Linked DNA regions of Homo sapiens: region 1 is linked to region 2. The links come from fine-mapping of genetic effects on gene expression. A gene starts in region 2. The other region holds a variant in brackets. All regions are shown on one strand. Distances are from middle to middle.

The links. PIP is the estimated chance that this variant, and not a neighbour inherited with it, causes the effect.
Region 1: its variant is fine-mapped to the expression of BID in whole blood (INTERVAL, PIP 0.96).

The regions. Positions count from the first base shown.
Region 1 is chr22:17,721,917-17,735,798 of GRCh38, forward strand. It overlaps BCL2L13 (BCL2 like 13), which reads left to right. Exons shown (of 7, transcript NM_015367.4): 7 at 4,761-8,939. The coding sequence ends at 5,618. BID (BH3 interacting domain death agonist) reads right to left here. Exons shown (of 6, transcript NM_001196.4): 6 at 12,222-13,675. The coding sequence ends at 13,664. Among named protein-coding and RNA genes, the nearest start is that of MIR3198-1, 35 kb to the right of the region's middle. The variant G/T (reference allele first, on the strand shown) is at 9,927.
Region 2 is chr22:17,770,770-17,785,544 of GRCh38, forward strand. It overlaps BID (BH3 interacting domain death agonist), which reads right to left and starts at 3,700. Exons shown (of 6, transcript NM_001196.4): 1 at 3,612-3,700. It overlaps LINC00528 (long intergenic non-protein coding RNA 528), which reads left to right and starts at 6,521. Exons shown (of 1, transcript NR_103718.1): 1 at 6,521-8,712. RefSeq lists enhancers at 1,029-1,168, 6,556-7,035, 8,516-8,565, 8,833-9,740, 10,411-11,424 and 3 more and silencers at 3,209-3,538, 3,569-3,638, 3,659-3,708, 3,729-3,828.

The DNA of each region.
Region 1 (13,882 bases), 49 kb before region 2:
CCCAAAGTGCTGGGATTACAGGCATGAGCCACCGCGCCCGGCCAAGAAATTTTTATGATGCACACTTTTCTTGTTACCTTGCCCCTTAGAAATAACTCATAATGGTTTGGTGTACGTTTTTCTAAACATGTGTTTTGCTTATATAAACATTTTATTATGTATAAATATATGCAAATAAGTAGATATGTATATATGTGCATTTAGTAAATAGGATCATACCATCCATTTTCCCACAGAGTTATCTTTGCCACAAATCATGTGACCTTATATATCTAGTTCTGGATTCTATTTTATTTAATTGGTCTAATTGCCTCTGTTTTTTTTGGAATTGAGACAAGATCTTGCTCTGTCATCCAGGCTGGACTACAGTGGCACGATCATAGCTCAGTGCAGACTCAAACTCCTGGGCTCAAGGGATCATCCCATTTCAGCCTCCTGAGTTGAGTAGATGAGACTACAGGGGTGTGTGTGTGTGTGTGTGTGTGTGTGTGTGTGTGTGTGTGTATGTAGAGATGATGTCTTACTATGTTGCTCAAGCTTGTCTTGAACTCCTGGCCTCAAATGATCCTCCTGCCTCAGCTTCCCAAAGTGCTGGGATTACAGGTATGAACCACTGTGCCCAGCCAGGTCTAATTGCCTATTTTTAAGCTCTTACCATGCTTATACAATCAGTGTGCCTTTGTAATGGGTTGAGTAGATACCTGGTAGTGTCAGCTCTCAAACTGTTGTTTTTCAAGATCAGCTTAAATTCCTTGGCCTTTTTAAATTGCTATATAGATTTTAGAATTAATTAGTTGTCAATTTCCATAAGAAAAAACCTGGTAGGATTTTATATTGGAGATTGTATTGAACCAAAGGGTTAATCTGGGAATAGCTGACATCTTTACAATAGTTTTCCAATCTATGAGCATGATATATATATCCCTTTAGGATATCTTTAATTTCTTTCAATAATACTTTGTAGTTTTTTATGTAGAGTTATTGTACAATATGGGCTTCCTTCCACATTGGACTTAAAAATGTACTTCTTTTTTAATAGTAGTTAAATAGTTTGGATGAACCATATATATTTTTAAACTTTCCTGAGGGTATTGAAGACTGTTTGAAATCCTTCTGTATTAAAAATGATGCTAATGAAAATCCTTGCAAAATGTGTAAGCTTGAGACCTGATTACAGCTTCCGGTTAGGATCTCCATGTCTTTGCTTACTTAGCTGAACCAAACCCTCCCTGTGTCTCTCTCTATCTGTCCCTCTCCCTCTCTCCCTCTCTCTTTCTCCCTCTCCTGAATGCATCCTCTTCTGGACCATTCCAGTGGTCCTTACCCTGAGGCTGGGGCAAGCTGTCATCCTCAAAAGCTGGGAGGCCTAGAAGCCCTCTCTTCCAAGCCAATGGGCCCTCCAATTTTCCTAATTGTATACTGCAGTACTGTAATTTTTAAAGACAGATTTTACTTTACAGTTTTGTGTTATCTCTGCTTAGAAGAGATGGAGGAGGAAGGAAAAGTTTGTAAATTACCTTCTTTAGCCAAGGGAGGGTATTGTTTCCATTTGTTTTCACTTCCTTATTGTCCCATCCAGTTGGTATTTTAGAATAGCTCTTTGTCCTACCACCATACCACCAAAAACAACAATTAAAATGACAACACAAACAATAGCAAGTTATGAAATAGCATAACTTACTGATTACTTCCTATGTACAAAGTACTAATCTAAGCACTATAAATACTATACCTCGGGCCGGGCGCGGTGTCTCACGCCTGTAATCCCAGCACTTTGGGAGGCCGAGGTAGGTGGATCACGAGGTCAAGAGATTGAGACCATCCTGGCCAACATGGTGAAACCCCGTCTCTACTAAAAATACAAGTATTAGCTGGGCATGGTGGCGTGCACCTGTAGTTCCAGCTACTCGGGAGGCTGAGGCAGGAGAATCACTTGAACCTGGGAGACGGAGGTTGCAGTGAGCCAAGATTGCACCACTGCACTCCAGCCTGATGACAGAGTGAGACTCCGTCTCAAAAAAAAAACAAAAAAAAACAAAAAACAAACTATACCTCATTTTAAAAATGAACTCAAGTCCAGGTGTGGTGGCTCACACCTATAATCTCAGCACTTTGGGACACTGAGGTGGGAGAATTGCTTGAAGCCAGGAGTTTGAGACCAGCCTGGGCAACATAGAGAGACCCGTCTCTACAAAAAATAAAAAAACTTAGCTGAGTGCAGTGGCCCATGCTGTTATTCCCAGCTACTCAGGAGGCTGAGGCTAGAGGATCCCTTGGGACCAGAAGGTTGAGGCTGCAGTGAGCTGTGATCCTGCCACTGCACTTCAGCCTGTGTGACAGAGCGAGACCCCAACTCTAAAAATACAACAAAAACAATCTTATCTAGTCAGTCATCCCCATTTTATTTGTGAAGAAATTGAAGTCTAAAAGTTTAAGCAAGGTATCCAGATTCGCACAGCTGGTACACAGTTGGAGCTGGGATACAAGCCAGTTGTTTTTGACTGTGAATTTTGTGGTCATACTGTATTATTTTAACCCCCTGATTATTCCATACTCATAGAACATCCTTGATGCTTACCAGGGCCTCTGAAGTGGCTGGAGCAAGGGTCGAGGTAGAAAGTGGTGCAGTATGATGCCGACATCATGGTCGTGTGATTTATTTGTATTTCTTATTTCCTTTTTTATGGGGCTGATAGACTTTTGATTTATGTTAGATCCTTGATGTATGTAGAAAGTTTTTGGTTTTGGTTGAAGAATGAAATTATCCTACTTCAGTTGAATAGCAACCATAATCATAAAATGAAGTAGAAATTAATTTGCTTTACATATTCCATTCAGATTCCCTGTAGCTTTTACGAGTGTTGTCTAGCCTTTGTATGACAATTTCTGTACATCTCTGTGACATTCCATTCCATTGGTTCTCTTCCTGTCCTTTTATTGCGCCTTACCCTCTGGGTTGGCCTAGCCCCTTGTGCATACACCTGTCATAAAGCTTTCTGTATCATATTGAAGTTAGTTATTCATATGTCAGGCTTCACAGCTGCCTAGTAAATTCTGTAAGAATAGACCCATTCTTTCTCGTAGCCCTTGTGCCTGACACAACCCTGATAAGCAGTAGGCACACGGTGGCCTGTTATTAATAGACATGGACACAAGGCCTGTGCTGTAGGGCTTTATTGCTTTCACTCAGACTTCCTGACAAAAGAAGCAAGAGTCTCCGTGTCTGCAGCATTTCTCCATTCTGTCTCTGCCATCAGAGGAATTTTAAAGCAAAGCTCTGATTATAATTTTGTACCTCAGAGATGTCAGTGACAAACCATCGCCTGTTGGATAAAGTCCATATTTCTTAGCTGTCATTCAGGTTCCTCCATGGTCCTGTCCTCACTGACCTTCTATTCTTCATGGGCACTCTGCATTAATTAAACAGGGCTCTGTCCTTATCTTCTTTTTTTTCTGTCTCTGTGCTTTTGCCTGCATTGTGTCTTCTGTGTACCCTTCGCCTGCCAAAATCTTACCCATTCTTCAGATGTCTGATAGAAATGCTAGTCCCTCCGTGAGGCTTTCTGTGATCTCCCTGCTTTCTCTGACCTCTACCCAAAGAGGTCTTTTTCCCATCTGAACTTTTTTTCTTCTTCTTCTAAGGAAAGCAACACTGCCATATGAACTCTTAATGGCACTTGGACTATGACATAGCATTATTTGTATACCCTACTAAGTGATAAATTCCTTGAGCACAAGGTCTTGCCTTTGTTTTCTCTGCTGTTTTGCATTAATTACTGCATTGAACATACAGGGTGAGTATCCCTTATCCAAAGTGCTTGGGATCAGAAGTGTTTTGGATTTTAATTTTTTTTTTTTTGATTTTGGAATGTTTGTGTGTATGTGATGAGATGTCTTGGGGATGGGAAAGCCCAAACATGACATTTACTTCTTTTTGTATGCACCTTATACATATAGCGTGAAGGTAATTTTATATAATATTAATATATTAATTTACAAATATACAATATTTATAACATAAATATATATAATATTTTGTGTGCATGAAGCAGATTTTTGACTGTGTTTTGCCTGCAACCCACCACATGAGGTCAAGTGTGGAATTTTCCACTTGTGATGTCATTTCAGCACTCAAAAAGTTTCGGATTTTGGGCCGGGCACAGTGGCTCACGCCTGTAATCCCAGCACTTTTGGGAGGCCAAGGCGGGTGGATCACTGAAGGTCAGGAGTTCCAGACCAGCCTGGCCAACATGGTGAAACCCCATCTCTACTAACAATACAAAAGTTAACTGGGCGTGGTGGCAGGTGCCTATAATTGCAGCTACTGGGAAGGCCGAAGCAGGAGAATCGCTTGAACCTGGGACGCGGAGGTTGCAGTGAGCTGAGATTGTGCCACTGCACTCTAGCCTGGGAGACAGAGCAAGACTCCATCTTAAAAAAAAAAAAAAAAAAACCTCAGATTTTGGATCATTTCAGATTTCAGGTTTTCAGATTAGGATGCTCTCAGCCTGTGTGTGAATTACACTGAATGTATATTAACTTAGGATTTTTTAGTTTCAAGGAGACTGCTCAGAAGACTGTCAAAAATTCTTTCTCTGCATTGGCCTACAAATACATGCATTCCATTCGGAAACTATGTAGGTTTAAACAGTGTTTCATTCCTAGAACTTCAGTTTAGGAAAGAATTTGCTTTCCAGATTGATGTTTATGTTTTAAATAGTTACCATTCTTTATTATTGACGCTTGTCCTTCGTTTCTAGGGCACTGTGTTTAGTCTTGAGTCAGAGGAGGAGGAATACCCTGGAATCACTGCAGAAGATAGCAATGACATTTACATCCTGCCCAGCGACAACTCTGGACAAGTCAGTCCCCCAGAGTCTCCAACTGTGACCACTTCCTGGCAGTCTGAGAGCTTACCTGTGTCACTGTCAGCTAGCCAGAGTTGGCACACAGAAAGCCTGCCAGTGTCACTAGGCCCTGAGTCCTGGCAGCAGATTGCAATGGATCCTGAAGAAGTGAAAAGCTTAGACAGCAACGGAGCTGGAGAGAAGAGTGAGAACAACTCCTCTAATTCTGACATTGTGCACGTGGAGAAAGAAGAGGTGCCCGAGGGCATGGAAGAGGCTGCTGTGGCTTCTGTGGTCTTGCCAGCGCGGGAGCTGCAAGAGGCACTTCCTGAAGCCCCAGCTCCCTTGCTTCCACATATCACTGCCACCTCCCTGCTGGGGACAAGGGAACCTGACACAGAAGTGATCACAGTTGAGAAATCCAGCCCTGCTACATCTCTGTTTGTAGAACTTGATGAAGAAGAGGTGAAAGCAGCAACAACTGAACCTACTGAAGTGGAGGAGGTGGTCCCCGCACTGGAACCCACAGAAACGCTGCTGAGTGAGAAGGAGATAAACGCAAGGGAAGAGAGCCTTGTGGAAGAGCTGTCCCCTGCCAGCGAGAAGAAGCCCGTGCCGCCGTCTGAGGGCAAGTCTAGACTGTCCCCCGCCGGTGAGATGAAGCCCATGCCGCTGTCTGAGGGCAAGTCTATACTGCTGTTTGGAGGGGCTGCTGCTGTTGCCATCCTGGCAGTGGCCATCGGGGTAGCCCTGGCTCTGAGAAAGAAATAGGAGGCTTTTCAGAAGAGAAAGACAGAAGGATGTAAGGTTGGAGTTGTATTGGCTGGAATTTGAACCTCCAGCAGCTGTCTGGACATTTGTGGAACACTCTGGGATAATTGGGGACTTCTGCTCAACATGGCAGTGGCATGTTAGGCATGTTAGGGCTTGAGGTGGGGCATTCACATTCATCTGACTGTAAATCCCAAGGGCCTCCGCTCATGCTAAATTGAGAATCTTAGGGGTAAAGCACCCCCTCCAGGACCGGGTTTCTCAGCCTTGGCACTAGTGCTGTTCTGACCATTCTCTGTGTTGGGGCTGTCCTGTGTGTGGTGGGCTCCACCCACTAGATGCCAGTGGCACCCCCTCCCAGAGATGACAAACGAAAATGTCTCTAGACATTGCCAAATGTCCCGTGTGAACATCCCCTATTGAGACCCACTGCTTTAGCGAGAGAGGGTTTACTTAGGAAGAATTGGGATAGAAATTCCCAGCTGAGAGAACTTAGCTGTGGGCTCCTCAGCTACTGACTTCTTAGCTCTTAATCCCCTTAGAATTTCATCTTTCTCGATGAGCAGGCTCTGCACCCACTCTTTTTTTGCCCCCCGCCCTCATCCTGGAGTGTGAGGGTGCTCGCCCGTACTCTCAGCTGCCTCTCAGGGACTGCACTGTTCCTCTTCACCCCCAGGTTCCTGCTAAGATCCCACGGGCGAGGGCTTGCTCTGGACTCAGTCTGTCAAGTCCCCGAAGCTTCCTGCAGCTCCACCTTGTAAAAATGCTGCCTTTGGGAATCTTCGAAATATGTACACAGAGAAAATCACATGAAGGAGACCTGGGGTCCCCACTTGTGAGTGCAACTGCAAGTAACTCTGGCTAGAGAGACACATGTGTCTTGTGTCAAGGCAGGAGGATAACCTGGATGACCTTCTGAGGTCTCTTCAGCCCTTTTCGCTAGTGGTCACCCACCACCATGGTTACTTGCCAGCAACATCTCTATTGCTGGATGGTCCCTGTCTATAACCTTGGGCTAGTATATTTTTTCCAATATGGGACCTTAGTCTTACTACTGATGAGTTCTATGGGTCTCTTGCTAGGGGGTAAGGATTTTTATTCTTGGGCTTATAGAGCCAGTTAGATCATAATTCTTATGAAATAGAGAGTGTCCTAAATATCACTGAAATAAAAAGTAGGAAAAAGAAGCTTGAATTTTAAGACTGAGGCTGCTCTGCAGATTCTAGTTTGGCTTTCAGAGTTCAAGAGTGGTGGCATCTTCACCTGAATTCTTCAATGCCAGGGTAATAAACCAAAATAGTCCTAATCAGTATATGCTAGTTGAGCATCGGCATAATTTTCTTTCCTCTGGCTGATCCCAGCCCTAAAGGAAGGGTAGACCCGTGTCTTTCCAGCCCTAAAGGAAGGGTAGACCCGTGTCTTTCCAGCCCTAAAGGAAGGGCAGACCCGTGTCTTTCCATGCCCGAGGGCCACGACGTCACTATGCAGGGCACACGTGGCTTGGTTTAAAAAGGTCATCTTAGATTTATCTTAGTAAATGTAATAAATTATTTTTTAGATCTTGAAATTTATAATAAAAATACTTTACCTACCCTGATCACCAAAACCTGATGTTTTAAATGTGCTTTCTTTTTGAAATTTATGTTTTCAAATAAAATCTCCCTAAAGCAATATTTAAAAATTGGTCAAAACAAGGTCTGGGAGTATGTTTGTGTGTCTTTCCAGCTTTATCCTGTAGCGTGTCTTTGTTCTGTGTTTTAGTGTCCCATTTAGGGAGTGATGTTTTAAGGGTTTTTGTGTACTTGGATTAAGTAATTAGAGGTGAGTGGGGGGAATGGGATTATTGAGGCAATGATTTTTTTCTTCATGGGCTCTGATAGTTGCATTGATTGTTCTGTATTCTAATTGCTATATTTGTGTTTGCATAGGTGAAGAGCAAACTGGTGCGTTATCTTGATTTTTAAAAAGTAATAAATCCTATGAGTTCCAGTATTAACACTTGCCAGTTCTGGATCCTCACACCCATTGGCTGAGCGCATTCAAGCACCAATCGAAGCCAGGTTCATCTCTGAGCTGCTGAAAGGAGGTGTGAGGCTTAGGAAATTGGAGCCTGTGTTGCCCACGAAAGGAAAGAATAAGGAAGAAATGTGGTATGGAAGCGGCTACTTGCTGCTTTATTTTCCCACCTGTTAGACATTCCTCCACAGTGATTTGGCCAGTTGTATTTCACGGTAATGGAACTAGATAGTGTTTTCCATTGGCTTTCTCTGGTAGCTCTTGGTCAGCTCCTGAGTTAACAGGATGTGGCAGCATCCCTGTTCTTCCTTCACGTCCTCACCCTCTGCCTCCAGCAGTGGAAGGGAACAGCCCTCATGAGGACTGCTTCCTACTGCAGCTCCTGCTTTTTGCTCATACATTTAAAAAACTATTTCTCAAGCTTCCCCTCCTTTTGGGGGGAGGAGCTGATAGTAGGAGGCCATTCCTTCCACCTCCAACTTATACCCTCTAAGTCTAAGGTGAAGGAAAGATTCAGAATAAATCCAACTTGTTTATAGAAAAGTTCTTGTTAGTCCTTAGACCTCATCTCAACTGCTCTGTTGAAGGTAATGATTTATTGGGGGGAAAAAACAACGCCAATTTATCCTCTCTGTATTAAAGTGATAATTCTGGGCCCACAGAAATCAGTCAGTACCTGCGGTGTGCCTTAAGGGGACTCTCATGATCATCATTCCCTTCTAGAGAACATTCTAGATGAAGAAATGCAACTGTTGACCTTCTGGTTCACCCATCTCCCCCTCGAGGCATTCTTGATACCCCTTCTCACCTGCATTTCTGTCCCAGGGATACCAGATGCAGCCACTACCTAACTAGGCTTGTCCTGGGGGAGTGAGCCGTGAACCTGGAGACATGGCTTTGACCCACAGCTACTGTTCATTTCCTCAGGCTTTGCGCTGATTCCCTCAATAATATGACAGTAAGGCAAGTAGTCTCCTTGCCTTTCTCCTGAAAGGTATGAGATGTGGACATTTCAGTGTTTGAATTATTTTAAGAGATGTTTTATAGAAATAAAACGTTTTGTAGCTAAGAATTTTCCCTTTCTCTTAATTTCTTACATCTTTCCACACAAACTTATCTTTCCAAGAATTTGAGGTGGTGATCATACCCATCAAGACGGCCTTGTAGGCTATCTGATTGCTAACAGACACGACCTAGAGCTTCTGCCCAAATTCCCACACAAGCATTATCTCGTTTAACATCTCAGCGACATACTGGATACCAGAATAATGTTTCCTCTTCTCTGGTGCACCAAAACCTGCCCTTAGTGATAATCTCTCAATTATGACATTCATTTGAGTTTAGGGTGTATAATTTTTCCTAAAAAAAATTCATGTCGATAATTATATTTTAGCAAATACTAGTTGAGCATTTATAACATGCCAGAGACGGTTCTAGTGCTCTCACATACCTTATTTCACCTTCACAGTTCTAATAGCTGTTTGTATTCCTTTTATTCCCATATTACAGAATGAAGAACCTAATCAGAGTTTGTTAGTTTTTCTTTTTCCTTTTTTTTTTTTTTTTTTTTTTTTGAGACAGAGCCTTGCTCTGTCGCCCAGGCTGGAGTGCAGTGGCACAATCTCGGCTCACTGCAAGCTCCGCTTCCCGGGCTCACGCCATTCTCCTGCCTCAGCCTCCCAAGTAGCTGGGACTACAGGCGCCCGCCACCATACCCGGCTGCTTTTTTTGTATTTTTAGTAGAGACAGGGTCTCTACTATGTTAGCCAGGATGGGCTCGATCTCCTGACCTCGTGATCCACCCGCCTTGGCCTCCCAAAGTGCTGGGATTACAGGCGTGAGCCACCGTGCCCGGCCCAGAGTTAGTTTTTCTAACGTCCTCAAGCATAGGCGAGGCAAGGCAATGATTTTGCCGGTTTTTATCATTTTCCTGGCACTGCAAAGCAGTATTGGCAGGTCCCCTGCAAACAGTTGCGCCAGTTGTTTACTGCATAAGGACTGACTGGGGACAAATTCCGACGTGCAGCCTGTGCTCTGCTCACCATGCTGTGGGCTCTGGGAGAAGCGAAGTATTTTTCTAATTTGTACAAAGGCACCATATAGGCTCACTTAAACATTAAGCATGTTCTACTACAAAAAAACAAGAGTGAGGGTTAGGTCCAGGACTGGTCTCAGCTTCCAATTATGTAGCTGTTTTCCCTGTAGACATTGAGTGAGATGCTTTGTGGTTACAGAATTCACAGTCATTGCCGATGAGCTTTCATTAGCTTTCTTGATTAAATATTTTTGCTT[G/T]TAGACAAGGTTAGGCAATCTGTCCCAGCAGTTATCACAAAGTGCTAAATGAGGGGGGTGAAGACAGCACCACGATGCATTTCTTGGTCTTTTTCTGTTTGTTCGAGTTCGTCCCTTCTCCCCTGTGTATGCCATCATAAGGGTGGGGCTGTGGAGTGAAGTAGGGGAATACCTGGAAGCATTGCTTGGCCTCTGGACAGACAAAGAGGTTGGGGACTTAGGAGGGTTGACCAGGTATGGCCACAAGTACGTCAGCTCCTGGAGGATCTTCCCAGTGAAAAGCCTCCTACTACATTCCACAGCACTTCATGGTAATTATAACCTTGGCTAGATAATACCTGCTGTATGGTACAGAATAGTGACATTCAATTACCTCATATATAAAGAGAGCTCCATGGAGAGCTGGAAAGTGCATGCCACTACAATATTAACACATCCCATCTTCCCTTTCTTTTTGCAAGGCTGTTGAATTTCAGCCCGGCATCCCCACACACTAACACCATCAGGTCTTCCACATTTGATGGTTACACCACAGGAGCCCACACCAGACTGCTGCTTCCCTGTGAGCTCAGAGTGAAATTGTTCTCAGGGGTATTTGCAAGGCCTTGTCATCAGTTAAAGACTAGCAGCTGACTCCAGGTGATTCTACCCCGCTGTCACCTCTCCAAAGGGGAAATTGAATAGTGGTATTGCTCACTGTGGTGAGTGTTCTTTGCACCACCAGAAGAAACTGGTTAATGAATGTACTATTTAGAAGAAAAGTTTTGACATTTAAAGATTACTAGTTGTTCCCTTTCCCCAGGAAAAGAAGGTCAAAGTACAGTCTTCCCTGTTGCAGAGTTTGGAATAACTCTGTTTGCCCTGATGCTTTCCAGCAGGAGAACTGTATTATGTAGAGGGGTCCTTGGCCAGCATCAAAGGAAAAAAATTATTTTTTTCCTAGACCTGTATTTTTCCTATTACAGTCTTCCATTTATTTCTTCCTCCAGATTAAAAGTGCCTCTTCCTACCTCATTCCTTAATTAAGGTCAATTTAGTGTTGGCTCAAATGCTTTCATCTCAAAAATACCGGAATTGAATGGTAATTTGGATAATTAAGTTATCGTGCATTTTAAGCAGCATGTGTTTCCTTTTTCCGTGTGAGTTCCATGAGCCTCTGCACTGCCGCTCTGCACTGCTGAACTGATCACTGTGGGTCATTCTGGCTCCTCTTCCTTCCTGTCATCTACCTTTTGGCCAATCTACTCTTCATCAGGGGAAAGGAACAAACTTCAAATCTGTGAGTTATTCTTTCTGTCAGAAGCAACGTGCTAGAGAGAATACATGGGATTTGAAGATAATCAGTGGACTCATCTTTCTATCCACATGGTAACTATGCCCTTGACAGGTGGTATCATTTCACATCATCAATTGTCTTTGTTAAGTCCATACTTAATTGGTTTGACTCCAGGTTTTGAAAACAAGATCGTAACATTCAAAGGACTCTATATTCCAATTCTCAGCTAGCACAACTAATAAAGTTGCTGGACAGTAAAACTAGGCGCCAGTGCTGTGATCCTTTAAGGAAGCCTTGAGTATCGCAGCAGTTAATGCTGGGTCCTAAGAGGAGAGGTCAGGAATGATTTGACCTTCTGAATGCACCAAATGTCCCACGTGACTTTCAGATACACCAAGCATCTTTTCAAGGAGAAAGCTTTTGATGTTTAACAAAAGAATTTCCATCACTTAATTCAAATATTTTTAAAACAGAAAGGAAAACACATTCTCTGAATTAAAGTCACCTTTGAATCATATCCACAAGGATTGTGTTACAGGGCAAAATCCACCAACTGCCAGGATATGCCCGAGTCACCATGGCTGGGAAGTGCTCAAGACTGGAACATTTGTGTTTGAGACAATGGAATCTTTTTATAATGTTGGCTTTGGGAGAAGGGGTGACGGTCTTGCTTTACAACCAAGACTATCTCAGACTTGGTCTGGAAGAATTTACACTAAGACCTGTTATAAAATGGTGGCCTACTGTATGAATTCAAGTGAAACAGAAGCAGGTGAAGATGCTGTGGAAGAGTCAGTGTGTGAGAGAGGTGGTCCAGAGTCACTTGCTGCTTAAGAACACTTTCCCATTAGTTCCGGGTGATGACTGCATACAGCTCCTTTGGGAAGAAAATGCCTCCCCCAGTGAGAATCTGATTATAATGGCTGACGTATGGATGGATGTGTAGGCGCAGTGTGGTTCAACCTGTTTCCATTGTGGTTGGAAAACTTTTTTAAAAGTCCACTCCAAAACATGAAAAGTCGTAGTGTTAGGAAGATTTATTTCCAAACAGTGGCCTCCACACTGCGCGGCAGCACTTCTTTTTAGTATTTGTAAGCTTTTGCCCACTTTCAATTGAGCCAGCCCTAGCGTGGTATGTATTGCATGCTGAACAATATAGAGTTTGTTTTTCCTTTCTGATGATTTTAAACTCTTAAAGAACAGGAAAGCATCTGGTAAGAAGAAATCATGAGTCCGTCAGTGCCCTTACTCATATGCGTCTCCAGTGGCCTCATGTTGTGGTCACAGGAGTTTCCTGTTCACAGCAATGTGTGTGATATGGACCCAGCATCCACTGTCGTGCTTTTAAACTGATTCCTGGGACATAGCTTACCACTGGAACAGCAGACCAGTGTTGCACTGTTTCTAAAGCTAAGCTTTTCCTTATTTATTTTGGTACTACCTAAGTGACTTGGTTTTGACTGTCCCTAAGAGAGGGAACCACTTTGCTGAATTTTTAAAAAGTCCAACTGCTCTTTCATCTTTTATGCTTAGAAACCTGTTCTCTCCAGATGCACTTCTGAGGCATGGATGAGCTGAGCGTATGGCTAGAAATTGGAAGTTTACAGCTATTACCAGGGGGCTAACTCCCGGGGCATCGCAGTAGCTTCTGGCACCCGTGGCTTCATGTCTTTAGCAAAGTCTTGATGTCATGGAAAGAGAAAAAGTGTATGCAGTTAGTTACCTGATTTTGTAAACAAACAGTGGCTGACCTGGGCCCTTAAATCACCTTCACACCTTTTAGAACCACAAGTGGTTCTTTTTGACTCCAACAAAGGAAACGAAGTTGAAAAAGTCAAGCCCCTGTGTACTGGGGCCGGACTTCCCATCATTTGAGTGCAGCACTTTAGTTCAGAATCTCTGTGCCATGTGGTTTTTTAAACAGGAAGATTGTTGGTTCCTTAGTATTAAGATAGATAGTCCCTATTTTGAGTGGAATTTTTCATTTGTAAGGGGTATGTTCCTTCTCTGATTCTTGCTTTCCTCAAACAGGATACTGCCTGCTGTAAGACCATCCTCTATGGTTGTACTTTAATAAACAGTAATTTTTTTTTACCAAAAAAATTGTATTTTGTTTCTACTTCCTTGAAACCTGCTTTCCAATTTAATTTTTAAGTGGGAACCTGCACAGTGGAAATAAAGGCACCGTGTGTAGATTTACAGATGTGCAGATTCATGTGTGGATGATATGAAGGCCATTCAAATACGTGTAAATGGACATTTTCATTCAAGTATATTAATGTAGATATTTTAAAGTGGGTTATAAGTTTAACATTGTCTTTAAAATAGAAGTCACAGCTATCTTCCAGCCTGTCTTCTCTAGGAACGCTGTTGACATGCCAGGGCTCCGTCTACACTGGAAGCAGCTATACAGCTGTGACCACATCGAGCTTTAGCCAGTCACACTTCTGGAACTGTCCGTTCAGTCCATCCCCTAGAGCAAGAAAGGAGAAAAAGCCAGAATCAGCTAGGCTCATTCACAAACCAGGCTCCAGAGCTCTGTGCCACAGTAGAGCAAAGCTGGGGTTTATGCAAAAACATGTTCTCCAGACCCCTGAAGTCCTATCCGTGCATCCTACTTTTTGCTACATGGGGGCAACTGCAAAAACAGGCCGTTCAGGCGGTGAGGTGGGTATTCACA
Region 2 (14,775 bases):
TTGTTAAGCCAACGAGGAGGGAAGCCAAGGACTGCCCCCGGCGCCAGCATGGCTATGAGCATAGAAGCGGGCTGAGCCACAGGCTGGGGGATCCCATGCAGACCAGGCAAAGCCCAGGCAGGATGCTCTGCAGAAAGTTCCCTGGTGATCCGGACCCGGAGCCAGACTGAGCCGCAGCCCCAGAAGACAGGTATCTCCTCCCCTGGGGCCACAGCAGCCACAGAGGCCACCCACGGCTTCCACTAGGACAGTGTGTCTTTCCAGTTACTCTACGTACCTAAAAGTGACCAGCCCCCTTTCAGGTCTGGTCTATGATCCAGATGGTGATCTTTCCCCCACTTTTTTTTTGAGACGGAGTCTCGCTCTGTCCCCCAGGCTGGAGTGCAGTGGCGCGATCTCGGCTCACTGCAAGCTCCACCTCCCGGGTTCACACCATTCTCCTGCCTCAGCCTCCCAGGTAGCTGGGACTATGGGCGCCCCCCACCACGCACAGCTAATTTTCTGTATTTTTAGTAGAGACGGGGTTTCAACGTCTTAGTCAGGACGGTCTTGATCTCCTGACCTCATGATCCGCCCAACTCGGCCTCCCAAAGTGCTGGGATTACAGGCGTGAGCCACCGCGCCCGGCTGGTCTTTCCCCTTTAAGACCCCACTTCCCACCCCCACCCTGGCCAAGCTGATAGGATTCAAGGAGTGCGGCGGTGCAATCACAGCTCACTATAGCCTTGACCTCCCGGGCTCGAGCAATCCTCCCGTCTCAGCCTCCCAAAGCCACTTCCTCCTTTTCTTAGTTGTTGGCTTCTTCTACAGAAAAGGATCCTGAAAACAAACACCTAAAATGCCAACCAAGAATTCAATCTGCAAGGCAGCAGCACCTCCAGAAATAGCTGCTTTGTGGCCTGTTTGCCATTTATGTGAAACTTCCCCATTTTGGACCAACGCAGGCAGAAAGAGAAAAGGAGGAAGAGGAAGGAAAAGAGGCAGGCTGTGTTGGGGCTGGATGGGGCTGTAGGAACCTGCCAGCAGTGGCTCTTGGGGAAAACCCCACTGCGAGGTTTCTGAACCCCTGCCCCGGAAGCTTCCCCTTTCCCACACACGTCACTCGCTGCCTTGGAATCTGGGCTGCCTCCCTCCCAGGGGCTCACAGGGGAGCGAGGCCACAGAAAGGCTCCTTACCCCCAGTGGCCTAACAGGTGTGACATGTGGAGGGGGAATCTGGGCAGTGTGCCTGATGCTCAGAGCTGAGACCCTGAAGTCCAACTCCCTCGGGTGTGACCTTGGACAAGTTACTTAGCCTCTCCTTGCCTCAGTTACACCATCTGGAGAATGGGGATGCTACCCTCGTCTGACCACCGTGATGTGAGCCAGTCAGCACACATCAAGTGCTCCGTGAGCGTCCGGCACACAGGTGCTTGTCTCTGTCCTGTGCTTCAGCTCCATCAGTGTCTTCTTCAGACCTGTCATTGGCTTGGGGCAAGGATATATGTGGCCGCTGAGGGCGGTCCGCCAGGTATGGCAGCCATGGAGCTGCTAATTAGGCCCTGTGAGTGGGAGGCCCTGTGGGGTGGGCAGGGGCAGACGCCCAGCTGCTCTCGGGGACACTCCAGGCCTGTGCTGCCCTCCACAGCCCCAGCTGGAGAATGGTGACCAGATGTCAACGACAGGAAGCATTTCCAGAGGCCACAGCTCTGCAGGGAGGTCTCTCATGGGCTGACAGCCAGAGCCAGCGCTCCGGGTCCCCTGAAAAAACGGGCACAGTCCTCGGTCACGTCGAGGACCTGCTCAGCCCCTCCACTTGGCACCGGAGAGAGGATGACTCACGGCCCTTCTGCCTGGAAGGCAGGCTCCAGTGTCAAATGTCCATCCGCCTCCATCACCCTCATCCATCCTTGTCAGTCCAGGGGCCTGGGCACTGCTGGGGCTCCTGGGCAGACAGTTCCCCCTTGCAAATGAGTGGGACCCTCAGCTCCTTCGATCAGCATCCTCACGTCAGCCGAGCCTGTGAGCACCCCTAAGCAAGGCCTCTGAGCTGGGCATGCGACACCCCTTCCCACCCAGGCACCCTCCCCCTAGAATCCCCCATACCACCCTGGGGCCATGCCCCGCTTCCCTCTCTGGCAAGCTCCTGCACAACCTTGAGACCACCTGACAGCCACCGTCTATCCTGCCCAACCTCCTCAGAAGCACTAACAGCACCTCGCCCCAGCCACGGCAGGTCTCTGCACCCCTCGTCTCAGTCACCACTCTCACATCTCATGAACAGAGACACGAGCTGCTTCCTCATGCTCCCTGTGCCCGTCCTGGGAGATCCCTGCCTTTAAACCCCAGCCACGAACTGCTGACCCCGCATTTCCTCTTCCCTCCCTGGGCAAGAGGGGCAGAAGGGGCAGGGACGCACACCCTGGGCCGCAGGCAGAGGCTTGGCCAGGGTCGTCCTCCCGGCAGTGCCTCCCTGGAGCTCTGTCTACCTCAACTCCTGATGCCAGAGGATCCCTCTGCGCTCCCCACACCCTTAAGACCCCAGCTCAGGGAATCTGGTCTCGGTCATCACTCCCAGGGGACTGCAGGGCCCCAGGACGGCACACATTCAGGCCCAGGAGAGCTCCCCCCATCTCAAAGCCTCCTGTGGGTGGAGATGGAATGTGGAAAAACCGCATCCTCTGCAGCTCCCCCACAGTGAGAGCGAGGACTGAGGGTGTGGATAAGGCTCCAGGAAGGGGGTGCAAGCCTGAGAAGGTGGAAGAGCTCTGGGTGGGTCCATCTGCTCCTCACCTGCCCCAACCCTGCCTGCAGGTGAAGGCCGGTCCAGCCGCAGAAGGCCCAGCCCCCAGCCCACTTACAGAATCCGCACTGTGCTCCTCCAGCCGGCCCGGCCCCTCGCTGCCCACCGAGCCATCATGACCCCAGCACCGCTGCACATTCGTATTTGTTGAATGAATGAATGAACCCTTGCCAGCCCAGCCACTTGGTGGCTGAGGGCTTCAGAGCTCTCCCAGGGTCCCCTGGGGTCATTCAGCCACTCAACAGTTTCCCAGCAGCAGCAGCGAGGATCCGCACATCATTGCCAGTGCTCTAAGGAGCGGGCGAGCCCCAGTAAGCGGCCGCTCTGACCGCGCTTTGTCAGCCCTGAGCTCCGCTCGGGAGGAGCCGGCAGGTGTCTGCGGTGCTGGAAAGACCACGGTGTGGGCGGGGATTCCGATCCGCCGGCAAGGGTGGCCTGCACCCGGCCAGGCCCGCGGGTTTTCTCCTCTCCGGGGCTGGCCTCGGCCCCTCCCCCTCCCCGCGCCCCGCACCCCTCCCCTGAATCCCCAGGCCACGTGGAGAGGACACAACAAAGCCTTCCCCGCCTCCGAGGCGGACCCGACCCTCAGCACCGACCTGCCGGCCGCGCCGAGGAGGGCGCCCGGGCGGAGGGGAGGCGGGAGAGACCCGGCCCTCAGGTCGCTGCTGAGGCCTGGGGCTCTGACCCCCCGCCTCCCCTCCTCTGGCTCCCACCGCGGTCGGGCCCAGGGCGGGCGGCGGGCCCTGAGCTCCACGCCGGGGCAGGCGGCAGGCAGGGGTCACGGGCTGGGGCTCGGCGCGTACCCCGGGAGGGGCGCGGGTGCACTCACCACCCTCCAGCCGCGGGGGCGCGGGCGCGTCCGGGCCGAGGCAGCGTCTCCCAGGCGCGCGGACACGGTCGACTACCCGCTTCCTCCTTATGGCGCCCCGCGCGCTTCCTCCTTCGGCCCCCCACGCCCGGGCCCGCCCCGGCCCGCCCCGGCCCGCCCCCGGCGGCTTGCGGGGACCCGGGGAGCCCGCGCCGGCGCGGGGCTGTGGAGCGGGGCGGGGAGCCGGCAGCGCAGTGAGAACCAGGCTTTCCACCCTTACCCCTTACGCGACTGTTTCAGACAGTGTCGTCCAACTTTAAGTTGGCCACTTACTCCAGCGCCGCTGGGATAATTCCTAATGATTCTCTGGGAAACATTCAGAATCCCCAGGCTGTTTCTGGAACAGTCTGGGGTGGTCATTCTAGGTCCTCACGGAACCAGGGGTTTGGAAAGTGGGTGAAGCCATGTGGGTTGCAGAGAATCTGGCCCAGCCCCTCACCAGTCCCTGTGCTTGTTGTTTATTCTTTAATTATTTGGATATCAACTCTGATTTAAAACATCAGTTTAACATATAGATAATGCTGGGACTACAGGCGCACACCACACCCAACTAATTTCTTTTTCAGTTTTTAGTGGAGGTGGTGGGGGGGGGGTCTCCACCTCTGGAGGTCTCAGGCTGGTCTCGAACTCCTGGGCTCCAGCGATGCTTCCCACCTCGGCCTCCCAAGGTGCTGGAATGACAGGCCAGTCCATGCATCCCCGGATGCAGCTCTCACCGGCAGTGCTGCTGCAGAGCCCTTTGTGGGCGTCTTCACTTCTCTTGAGTGTGATACCTAGGAGTGGAAATGCGAATCATAGGGCTGGACGAGCTTCATGGTATTAAAAACTGCCTGCTTTCCAAGGTGATGCACACCGTTCGGCACTTCCACCAGCCCTGTTGGAGCGTCCAGTTGCTCTGCGCCCTCGCGTGGGCTCACTCCCTGAGCCCACTGTGGCTCCTCCAGACGCCCTCACTTCTACCCGGGCTCCCTAGACTCTTGCCTCTTTTATAAAAGGTCAGAGGATGTCACTCACGCTTTAACATCCTCTGAATAAAAGCCAAGTTCCTTTCAGTGGCCCGCAGAGTCCCACGCGACCTGCCCTGCTCTAAGCAAATCCTACCCTGTCCCTGTTCCTCCTCGGCAGCCCCATGGCCTCTGGCTTTCACCAGGCCTCACTTCATTTTCCTCCACAGCCAGCATCGCAGCATGACATACCACGGAGTCGTTTGTGTGTGTGTTGCCTACCTCCCCTCTCGGAATGTAGCCTCCACGAGGACAGGGGCTTGTTTCCTGCATGCTCTTCACTCGGGCTGGGCACTCTGGGGGGCTAACAAATGGAAGATCCTGTGAGCAGGGAAACCGTCAGATGGCATTAGGGGCCGGTGCCCTGCAGAAGACGAAAGGGAAACTTCATGGACTGAGGCCAGGTCATCTGCAGGGTGGTGTTCAAATTCATGGTACAATGTCAGCAGGCGCCCAGATGGGAAAAGAGAGGGACGTGCACCTGGGCACAAGAAGCTGCAGGGGCCCCTCCCAGGGCAGGCGAGAGCTTGGACAGTGGGGCACAGTGGGCAAGAGGCCAGTGGGGTGGCCTGAAGGCAGGAGGCTCCAGCAGCCTGGATGAGCAGTTGGATTTTATCCTCAGCACTGTGGGGGCCACTGGCCCTGTCATGCAGGGCAGGACCTGTACCAATTGGCCCCCACAGTCTCTGCCTCTCCTGTTGGCTTTTTGCAGGTCTCTCAAGTGCTTCTTACAGTCAGGGTAGAGCCTCCCCGCCTCAATCCTCCCTGTCCTGATCTGCTGCCTCTATGATGCTTTGGGCTTCAAAATCTGTCTGCAGTATTTGTAAAATGAGAGAGGGTGATGTTTCCTGCAAAACAACCACTTCAAAAAGAAAGGGGGGCGGGGTGCCAGAAAACAATTCAGGGGGTGACGGACTGGGGGGCTATGGAAGGGTCCAGGGAAATTCCGGGGATGATGGGATTCTTCTATACAGGGATTGTGGTGGATGCCACACAATTGTACACTTTTGTGAGAACTCTGCACGAAGAATGGTGAGTTTTACTGTATGTAAAATTATACCTTAATTAACAAATGAAACAATATACACATACATGAGAGAATGATGACTTTATTTTTTTTTTTGAAACAGGATCTAGCTCTGTCACCCATGCTGGAGTGCAGTGGTGTGATCACAGCTCACTGCAGCCTTGACCTCCCAGGCTCGAGTGATCCTCCTGCCTCAGCCTCCCAAGTATCTGGGACTGCAGGCATGCACCGCCACGCCTGGCTAATTTTTTAAAAATTTTTTTTAGACGGAGTCTGGCTGTGTCACCCATGCTGGAGTGCAATGGTGTGATTTCCGCTCACTGCAACTTCTGCCTCCCGGGTTCAAGTGATTCTCCAGCCTCAGCCTCCCAAGTAGCTGGGATTACAGGCACCCACCACCATGATTGGCTGGCTAATTTTTGTATTTTTAGTAGAGACGGGGTTTCACCATATTGGCCAGGCTGTTCTCGAACTCCTGACCTCAGGTGATCTGCCCGCCTCAGACTCCCAGAGTGCTGGGATTACAGGCGTGTGCCACCACACCTGGCCTTTTTTTTTTTTTTTTTTTTTTTTTTTTGGGACAGGGTCTTGCTATGTTCCCCAGGCTGGTCTTGAACTCCTGGGCTCAAGTAATCCTCCCACCTCGGCCTCCCAAAGTGCTGGGGTTACAGGCATGAACCACTGCACCCGACCTGAATGATGTTTTTGGCAATGAAAATGAAACACAAAATCCAGCAAGGTTTGACGGGGAAGGCGAGCTGGCGACCACATAGTCACAGTCGGCCTTTGCTTCCGCTTTATGCTGCAGTTTCTCACTGTCACTTCCTGCCACCGGGCTCGTCTTCCTGTGAAAATTCAGCCCCTCTTCCTCAGTTACCCCTTTGCAACAGAACGAGGCCGGCATTTTCTAAAGCGTCCTTGAGGAGTCCAGTTCCTAAAAGATTATTTCAGAGTCCACTGTTGTGGGCTGACTTGAATGCTCTCAAAATTCGTAAGTTGAAGCCCTGACCCCCAGGACCTCAGAACGTGACTGTGCTTGGACACAGGGACTTTCCAGAGGTGATTAAGGTGAAGTGAGGTCACTGGATGGCCCTCCTCCTATCTGACTGGTGTCCTGATGGGGACGCGGACACCCACACAGGAACGGACCCGGGGAGAACAACACATCGTCTCTGCGCCAGGGAGAGAGGCGTCCGGGGAACCCAGCCGTGCCCACGCATTTATCTCCGCCTTCCGGCTCAGAATTGTGAGGAAACCCGCTTCTGTTGTGCAAGTCCCGGGTCTGTGGTGCTCGGCCATGGCGCCCCCAGAACTGCATCCCCACCTTCTGCTCTGAGCCACCCATCCCCTCTGGAAGGGCTGAGCTTCTCTCCCTTTCCACCTTCTGTTCTGAGCCACCCGTCCCCTCCAGAAGGGCTGAGCTTCTCTCTCTTTCACTGCCTATGCTCTGGGAAACTTTCAGAATCCCCAGGCTGTTTCTGGAATAGTCTGGGATGGTCATTTTCGGTCCTCACAGAACCGGGGGTTTGGAAAGTAGGTGAAGCCATATGGGTTGCAGAGAATCTGGCCCAGCCCCTCACTAGTCCCTGTGCTTGTTAGTTATTCTTTAATTACTTGGATATCAACTCTGATTTAAAACATCAATTTAACATACAGATAATGCTGGGACTGCAGCTTCGCCAGGTGGCCTTCCTCTCCCGGTCTCGGGAGGCGTCACCCCCATCTTGTCCCCCCAAGATCAAGCGAAAAGGGCAAAGTTATCTTTTTTTTTTGCAAAATTCAAACCTTTCCCTCCTTCCCAGGTCTGGGTCACTTGCGACCCTCCTCTCAGGCTGCTTCTGACAGGCCCAAGTCACAGCCAACTTCAGGGGAGCTGTGTTGGATCCCTCCAAACTCCGGGAATGATGTGACCTCCCCGGCGCTCACCCTGGGCCTCTAGGTTAGACTCAGCCCAGACCCTGGCTCACAGGGAAGCAGAGCCCATGGCTGGCCTCCACCCGCTCAGACGCCCGCACACAGGCCAGGGGAGGGCTTGGGGGCAGCTCTGGGAGGGTCCCTGTTTGCGCTGTGGGTGTCCAAGGCTGGGTGTGCAGAGCTGAGGTTGCCACACACCTGAGGGACTCTCGCATAAGGATGGCGCAGGGCTGGAAGCTGGACTGAGACAGTGAATGAGACAGCGCTGCCGGCTCTCTCCGCGCCGTGGACTGGCTCCTAGGCAGTCTCACGAGCAAGTGTGCTGTTGCTCGTGCACGTGTGTTTTAACTGAGATGTGAGCTGGCGCGTTTTCTCCACCCGGCTCCATCTGCTGGGTCCCTCCACATTGCTGCGCGTGTGCCTCCAGTGCCATGGGGTCCCCACTGTGGGCAGCCCTGCATTTTGCCCAACTGCCTCCCAAACCATGGAACCCCAGTGACCTCCAACTTGCCGCCATGACGAGCCACTCTCATTCATATCCTCAAACACGGTGCTCTGAGCCCGAATGAGGGTTTCTTTAGAGAGATATCTGGGGACCAAACTGTAGGGACAGAGCTCCCGTCTAAGGTGGGCCTGTGGTGAGGTCTCCCCAGTGGTACACTTTAATCCCACAGCAGGGCTTGCAGGCCGCCCTGCTCCATCCCCACCAACACTGGGCAGGATCTAGCCTCCAAACCTTTGCCAGTCTAATAGTATAAAATGATAGCTCGGTGCTATTTTGGTTTTGCATTTCCATGGTGAACAATGAGTTTGAGAGTTTTTGTTCAAAAGTCCTTTGGGAGTTCGAGACCAGACTGGGCCACCAGGAGTTCAAGACCAGCCCGGGCAATTCAGTGAGATGTTCATCTCTACAAAAAATAAGAAAGATAAAAAATTAGCCAGGCATGTTTGTGTGTGCCTGTGGTCCCAGCTCCTCAGGAGGCTGAGGTGGGAGGATGGCTTGACCCCGGGAGGTGGAGGCTGCAGTGAGTTGTGATCGTGTCAGTGCACGGCTAGCCTGGGCAACAGAGTGAGACCCCGTTTCTAAAATAAAAATAAAAAACAAAAGAGAAAAGTCCTTTGGGTTTCGTCTTGGTATTACTCAGCAGAGGACAGAGGTGTCAGTTTCCATCCTCCGGCAAGCAGATGCTGAGACAAAGCTCGGTGGGAGGTGACACCCAAGAGGAAGGGGCGGGATTGGACAGGGACAGCCTTCAGATCACAATGGGGATCGGACCCCTGGGAGGGGAGAGAGGGAGGAAGAGAACTGGTCGGCTGTGAAGCAGATCTGATAGGGCCCTGCTGCGACACCAACAGCAGCTCAGGGCCAAGGATGCTGTTGCAGGAACAAGGGACAGACCCCCCATACCACTGGCTCAGTGCCTGGAGCACGTGGCCTCTGTGGCTGCAGCCCGAGGCTGTCGGCTGAGGCACTCCACACACCTGGAGAGCACGTTCTCTGTGGAAGGAGACTGCAGCATTCCCACGGCTCCAGAGCAGTAGTGGCGGCACCTGGAGAAAGAAGTCCACCACCTTCCTGATGGCGGACTCTTTCTGCAGGCTCGCTGCAGTAACAGACTGGGAGCTCCGGACCTGGCGTATTGCTAGCTCAGTCTGACGGGGTCCCGGCTTTCCTCTGAGGTTCTCCTCCCAAGAGTGCCGAGATTGATGCTGTCCCATCCAGCGTCTCCGCGGTCACCAGCTCTTCACATCCCTGGGTGAAGATGGGGAGACAGTGCGCGTAGCTTACTCCCGAGTGACTTGGGATAGAAGCCACGGCACAGAACTCTACAAGGGACACTGGTGCACTGAAGAGCAGGGTGCGGTTCTGACCAGAAGCATCTGTGCATCTGGAGGGCAGAGGGTGCGTGGGCACGGGGGTCTGGGCAGGCCTCCCAGGGCAGAGGTCAAGAGGAGGGCGGGAGGCCTCTAGCTTGGTGGTTAAGAGCTCAGCCTTCAGAGTTTGTTTTCTCAGCTCTATCCTTGACGAGCTTCGTGAGCTGTAACTGGCCAGGGGCTGCCCCCAGAAAAGCTGGCCTCCAGCTCCCCGCATCCTGAGGCCCCAGATCAAGTTTCTTGGGCCCCAATTTCCTGTCATCAAAGAGATGATAGTACATTCCTCAGAGGCGGGCTGTGAATACATGAAACGCAAGGTCTTAGGCACCCAGCATGCGCTCAGGAAGCGTGGCTTGTGATTACCCGGCAGTGCGGTGGGAGGCTCCTAGCAGCTGTGTGTGCTGTGAGTGGGGTGGCTGGGGTCCCTGTGGGAGGTGCTTCAGAGTGGGGGCTGGATGGCGGCTCCCGAGGGGCATGGGGAGAAAGACAGGAGCAGAGGGGCTGCCACGCACTGCCCTTTTCCCCTTCCACCCCAGTCCCCTTCTCAGTGCACCCTTGGAACTTCACCCCCTCCCTGCCAGCTGCCCCCACCGCCTTCCCCTGTCCTGAAGCCCCTGTCCCTACCATCCGCCCCAGACACTTCCATGCTCTTCTTGAGGGTGGGCTGTCTCCAGGTGCCGCTCATTCCCCGGCCGGGCTGCTGTGCTCTCACTGAAGCTCAGGTGCTCTCAGAAGCAGAAGGAATGAGGGGTGGAGGGGCCAGTGTCCTCCTGGCCTGAGGACAGGGCTGGGGAGGCAGGGGCAGAGGTGGCCTGTCCCCTGCTGGCCAGGGCTGACACGCGGTAATGGCTATTACCAAGTGGGCCATTTCTCCCTCCTGCCCCTCCAGGCATCTCATCCCCCCACACTGCAGGAGGTGAGGTCTGCACAAGGCCTCTGCTCCCCTGGGAATAAGCCCATGCGTTCCATGGTGCCTCCTAAGCCCCTGAACTGGAGCCCACCCCAGTACTGGCGGGGGCCTGATTGCTGGAGTGAAGGCTTCCTCCTTCCTGGCCACCCCATTCCCCTCATCTCTGGGACAGAAACCGACAATAAACGCCTGCCCGAGACCTGGGTTGGAAAAACAGAGTGAACACACACCATCACATGGCAGGAGGCCAGGTGCACAGAGCCCTCCCTGCAGTTAGTTCCCCAGGAACTGGGGCTGCAGGGATGGCCCAGAGCTCTCAGCCAACATCAAAGGGCCACAGCACCGGGGCTGGTGGCTCCTGGCCAAGTCAGCACCGACCACAGAGCTCCCCTCTCTGCCTAGACCCAGGGCTCTGCCCTGACAGCCTAGAGAAGGGCCTGGCTGGTGGTGCCTGGCTGGGTGGCTCCCTGCCTAGGAGGTGCTTTCCCCAAGCGCTGGGCCTTGAAGGGCCGGTGGGTTGTGAGGGCAAGAGTCTTGCTAGAGGAGAGGGGAGAGATGGCGAGATGCAGGACCAGAGCCTGGGGGGGTGAAAATCATGTTCACCCCCATGGTGAAATCACGGCCATGGTGAAGACCAGTCCCACCCACTGAGCGGAGGCAAGTAGACCCCAGGAATTCCCCAGCCCCGCTGCTGGGTGGGTGTGACCCTGCAGAAGCTCTGGGAGGCTGGCATGACTCAGCTGTTGCAGAAAGACCAGTCTGGGGTTTCCCATATTGCTTCAAGCAGCCTTTTCCCTGGGACTGCTCTATCTAATGCCAACAACCCTCAGCTGCTAGTGAGCCCTCGCCACCAACTTTCAGAGGGCTAACTCCTAAGGCCCAAGGGCTGGAAAACTCCAAGCACAGCCCTCCCAGAGTCTGGCTGTGGCTCAGAATGGGTGCTGGGGCAGGGCGAGCAGGATTTCCCAGAGGGAGCTGGGCCCTCTGGCGTCCGCCCCAGGGCTGGCCCAGCCCAGGGACCCCCATGATATCCTTCCTCTCACCCTGCCCTTTCTGAAGTGAACTCTTTGGATATTGGCCAAATCACACCCAGCAGAGGGAAGGGAGTGGAGGTCCCGGTGTGGGGGTCCCGGCGTGGGGTGGCTGTGCCCAGCTGGAATGTTTTGCATGGTGATTTGTTAGAGGGATATTGAGCAGAGGGCAAACCACCACTGTGTCTAGCATTCTGCTCAAAGGTGCAGAAACCAAGACTGCCACGTGCAGAGTGAACGGCCCAGGCTGTGGCCCCCCGGGGAGGGGCTGAGTCTCAGCACTGCAGCCTTATGCTGTGCGCAGTTCAGACCTGCGATAGGCGAGAGGCCAGCAGACACACGCCTCGCCTTACGTGACGTTTCTGCCATCTTCATTCCTGTGTTCGCTTCTGTACCAAATCTCCCCCACACACGATCTGACCCCGTGGCATCCTTCCTTTCCTACAAACTGCACTGAGACCCAGGTGTCATCGTGAAGTTCATGCCAGCCAGAGGAGCCACTGTGGCGTTTCCGGCCATAGGCCTGGGCAGGAGCCGCTCCCAGGCGTGCCGTGGGCAGGGCCGGGTCAGCCTTCAGGGAAGAGATGCCTGTATGGGACCAACTCAGGCAGCCACAGAGGGATGGCCCAGCACCCCACAAAACCCAAAGTGCTCAGCGTCTAGGATCTGTTTACGGGGCAGAGAAGTGGATGTTCTTTTCCTGGTTCAAAGGTAGAAACAGGCTTGGAGAGCCGCACCCGGCATCAGCCAGCCAGGCAGACGCCTGGTCTAGCGCTTGGTTCTCACAGGCATGTGGCCTCCAGTAAAAGATCTTCCTGGAGAGAGGGATGAAGGCTCTTGGGATCATCTTTAGAGGTGCTGATGGAGAAGCGGGGGGGGGGGGCCTTCAGGTGGGTGTGTATCCCTTTATCTAGAATGCTTGGGACCAGAGGTGTTTCAATTTTTCAGATTTTGGAATCTTTGCCGACATGATGCTCAAAGGAAATCCTGCATTAGGGAGTCTTAGCCTGTATCTCCGCTGGCGTGGAGGAAAAGGACAGGAAAGTTTTGAATGGCGGATCCACCCAGGGGACTTCCCTGGATGGGGCGCTGCCACCCCTGGGCCCTGTGTGGGAAAGCTTCAGTACTACACGGTGCCACCGGCTCCCAGCCCCAGCTGAGCTCACCGTCCAGCTCTCAAAGCCAAGGGCAATTCTTTGGCACCTGAAAATGCATCTAAAACTATGACGTTTATAGCTGCCTTAGCCCTACTTAATCTCTATTTCTCTACACCAAATCTCTCTACTGCATGTGCTTACGCCTACGTGCTCTGCTGCCATGGTGCCTTGCCAAGAGCGTGGCTGTGCTTTAGTTCTCCCCGGGGCCTTGGAGGACTCTCCAGGGAGGAGGAAAGGATGGTGCTAGGGGGAGGAGGCTGGGGGTGGACCTTGTTCTGATGCCCCTTGTCTCATGCACGAAGTTCTTCACCCTCCTCCAAACCTTGACCTGGTGGGAGCAGAGACTACCCCCTCCCTGGGGCCAGGGATAGGATGCTCATGCCTGGGAAGGCCAGCAAGCCTTCCCCGCTTACTCAAGGCTCTGCAGGGTTCTGGGGGCCGGTGCTGTCTTTGGTGCCATCCGATTGCTTCTGCTTGTGGGCCTCACCCTAGGGCTGTTCACCAAAGTCCTTCTTATCACAATCCTGGCTTGAAATAAGTGGGTTTCCAATTTTTTATCCCTGATCTTGCCTGGATCTTGATTCTGAGACTCCTCCCATCCCACCCTCTCCAACAGCAGAGACCCCTCCCATTAGCTGCACGCGATTGCTCCGAGATAACAAAGCATTGGCAGATGCTGGTGGAGCAGGCCTGCCCTTGACGTGGGCAAGAAGCTTGGGGAAAAAGACAATTTCCTGCTTGTCTTTTCTTGTCAAAATACATGGCCACACCAGGGGAAGGACAGGAAGAATTCTCTTACCAGCCAGCAGCGGCAACTTAGCAGCTACAGACACAGAGCGCAGGGGACGGGCGGGAATGACTGGCCATGGAGGAGCCGAGAGAGTCGGGACCTGCAGGAGCTGCCTGCTGAGGCGGTCTGGCTGGGCAGGTGGTCCCTGTGCTGGGGCCTCCGGGTGGAAGGCATCCCAGCCCCCCGAGGGAACAAGTTTGGTCCGAGATACATTTTTGAAAGGTATTTAATTCTCTAAAAACATTTTTAAAAGAAGTGAGACCCACTGGGGAAAGGGAGCTGCTGGCTGCCAGGTGCCTCTCTCTCCTTTTCTCCCGAGAAAGACCTGGCAGCCACTCTGCCGGGGAGACAACCGGGGGCTAGAGGGGCAGGCCCTGGGCCGGGCGCAGTGGCTCACGCCTGTAATCCCAGCACTCTGGGAGGCTGAGGTGGGCGGATCACCTGAGGTCGGGAGTTCGAGATCAGCCTGACCAACATGGAGAAACCGCATCTCTACTAAAAATACAAAATTAGCCGGGCATGGTGGCGTGTGCCTGTAATCCCAGCTACTCAGGAGGCTGAGGCAGGAGAATCACTTGAACTTGGGAGGCGGAGGTTGTGGTGAGCCGAGATCGCGCCATTGCACTCCAGCCTGGGCAACAAGAGCAAAACTCTGTCTCAAAAAAAAAAAAAAGAAAAAAGAAAAAAGAAAAGAAAGGCAGGCCCTGGACACTCATGGGGGCTGACCACTGAGAGGCTCCTCTCGCCTGCTGGGCCGGGTGCCTGTGGGTTGAGCAGCCCCTCAACGCTGACACTCCAGCACCCATCTGGACAAATCCCTCATCCTTGACGATGGCCTTGTGAAGACCCAGGGACCCGTGGCCTGTCCCTGGAGCTGCTGCTGGGACACCAGCTCTGACCTGCTGCCTGGGTGGAGGGGTGGCTGGGGCAATGGGGCCGGCTGAACCCTCTGGGAACACGGACTCCACGGGGGCCCAGCAAGTTCGTGAAACAGGGAGGCTGGCCTCGAGCTGCAGGGGGCTGCCTCCCGAGTCCTCCTAGGGTTCTCCCATCAGGAGGCATCTGTGCATCTACACGGGGCCCGACTCCGGAACCTCCAGCCTTCCCACGTGCTCCCCCATCCTAAGTTGGTCAGCAGTCCCAAGTCGGTGGGAGGAATGCGAGGCGCCGGCCGGGTGAGTGCTGTGACCAGGCTGACGTCGGGGGAAGAGACAGGAACACATCCCGCCAGGACACCGAGCTGGTGCTCACCTAACTTGTGCTCCCTGCCGCCCTCTTGTGGGTGGGCAGACACCAGCAGCTTCAGTCAGTCTCGTGTCACACAGCTGCGCGAGGTAGCTCCACACGCACCTACGCGTCTGGAGGATGCTATCCCTGGCTACTTTGGGGACCACTCAATACTGGCAGCCTCACCACG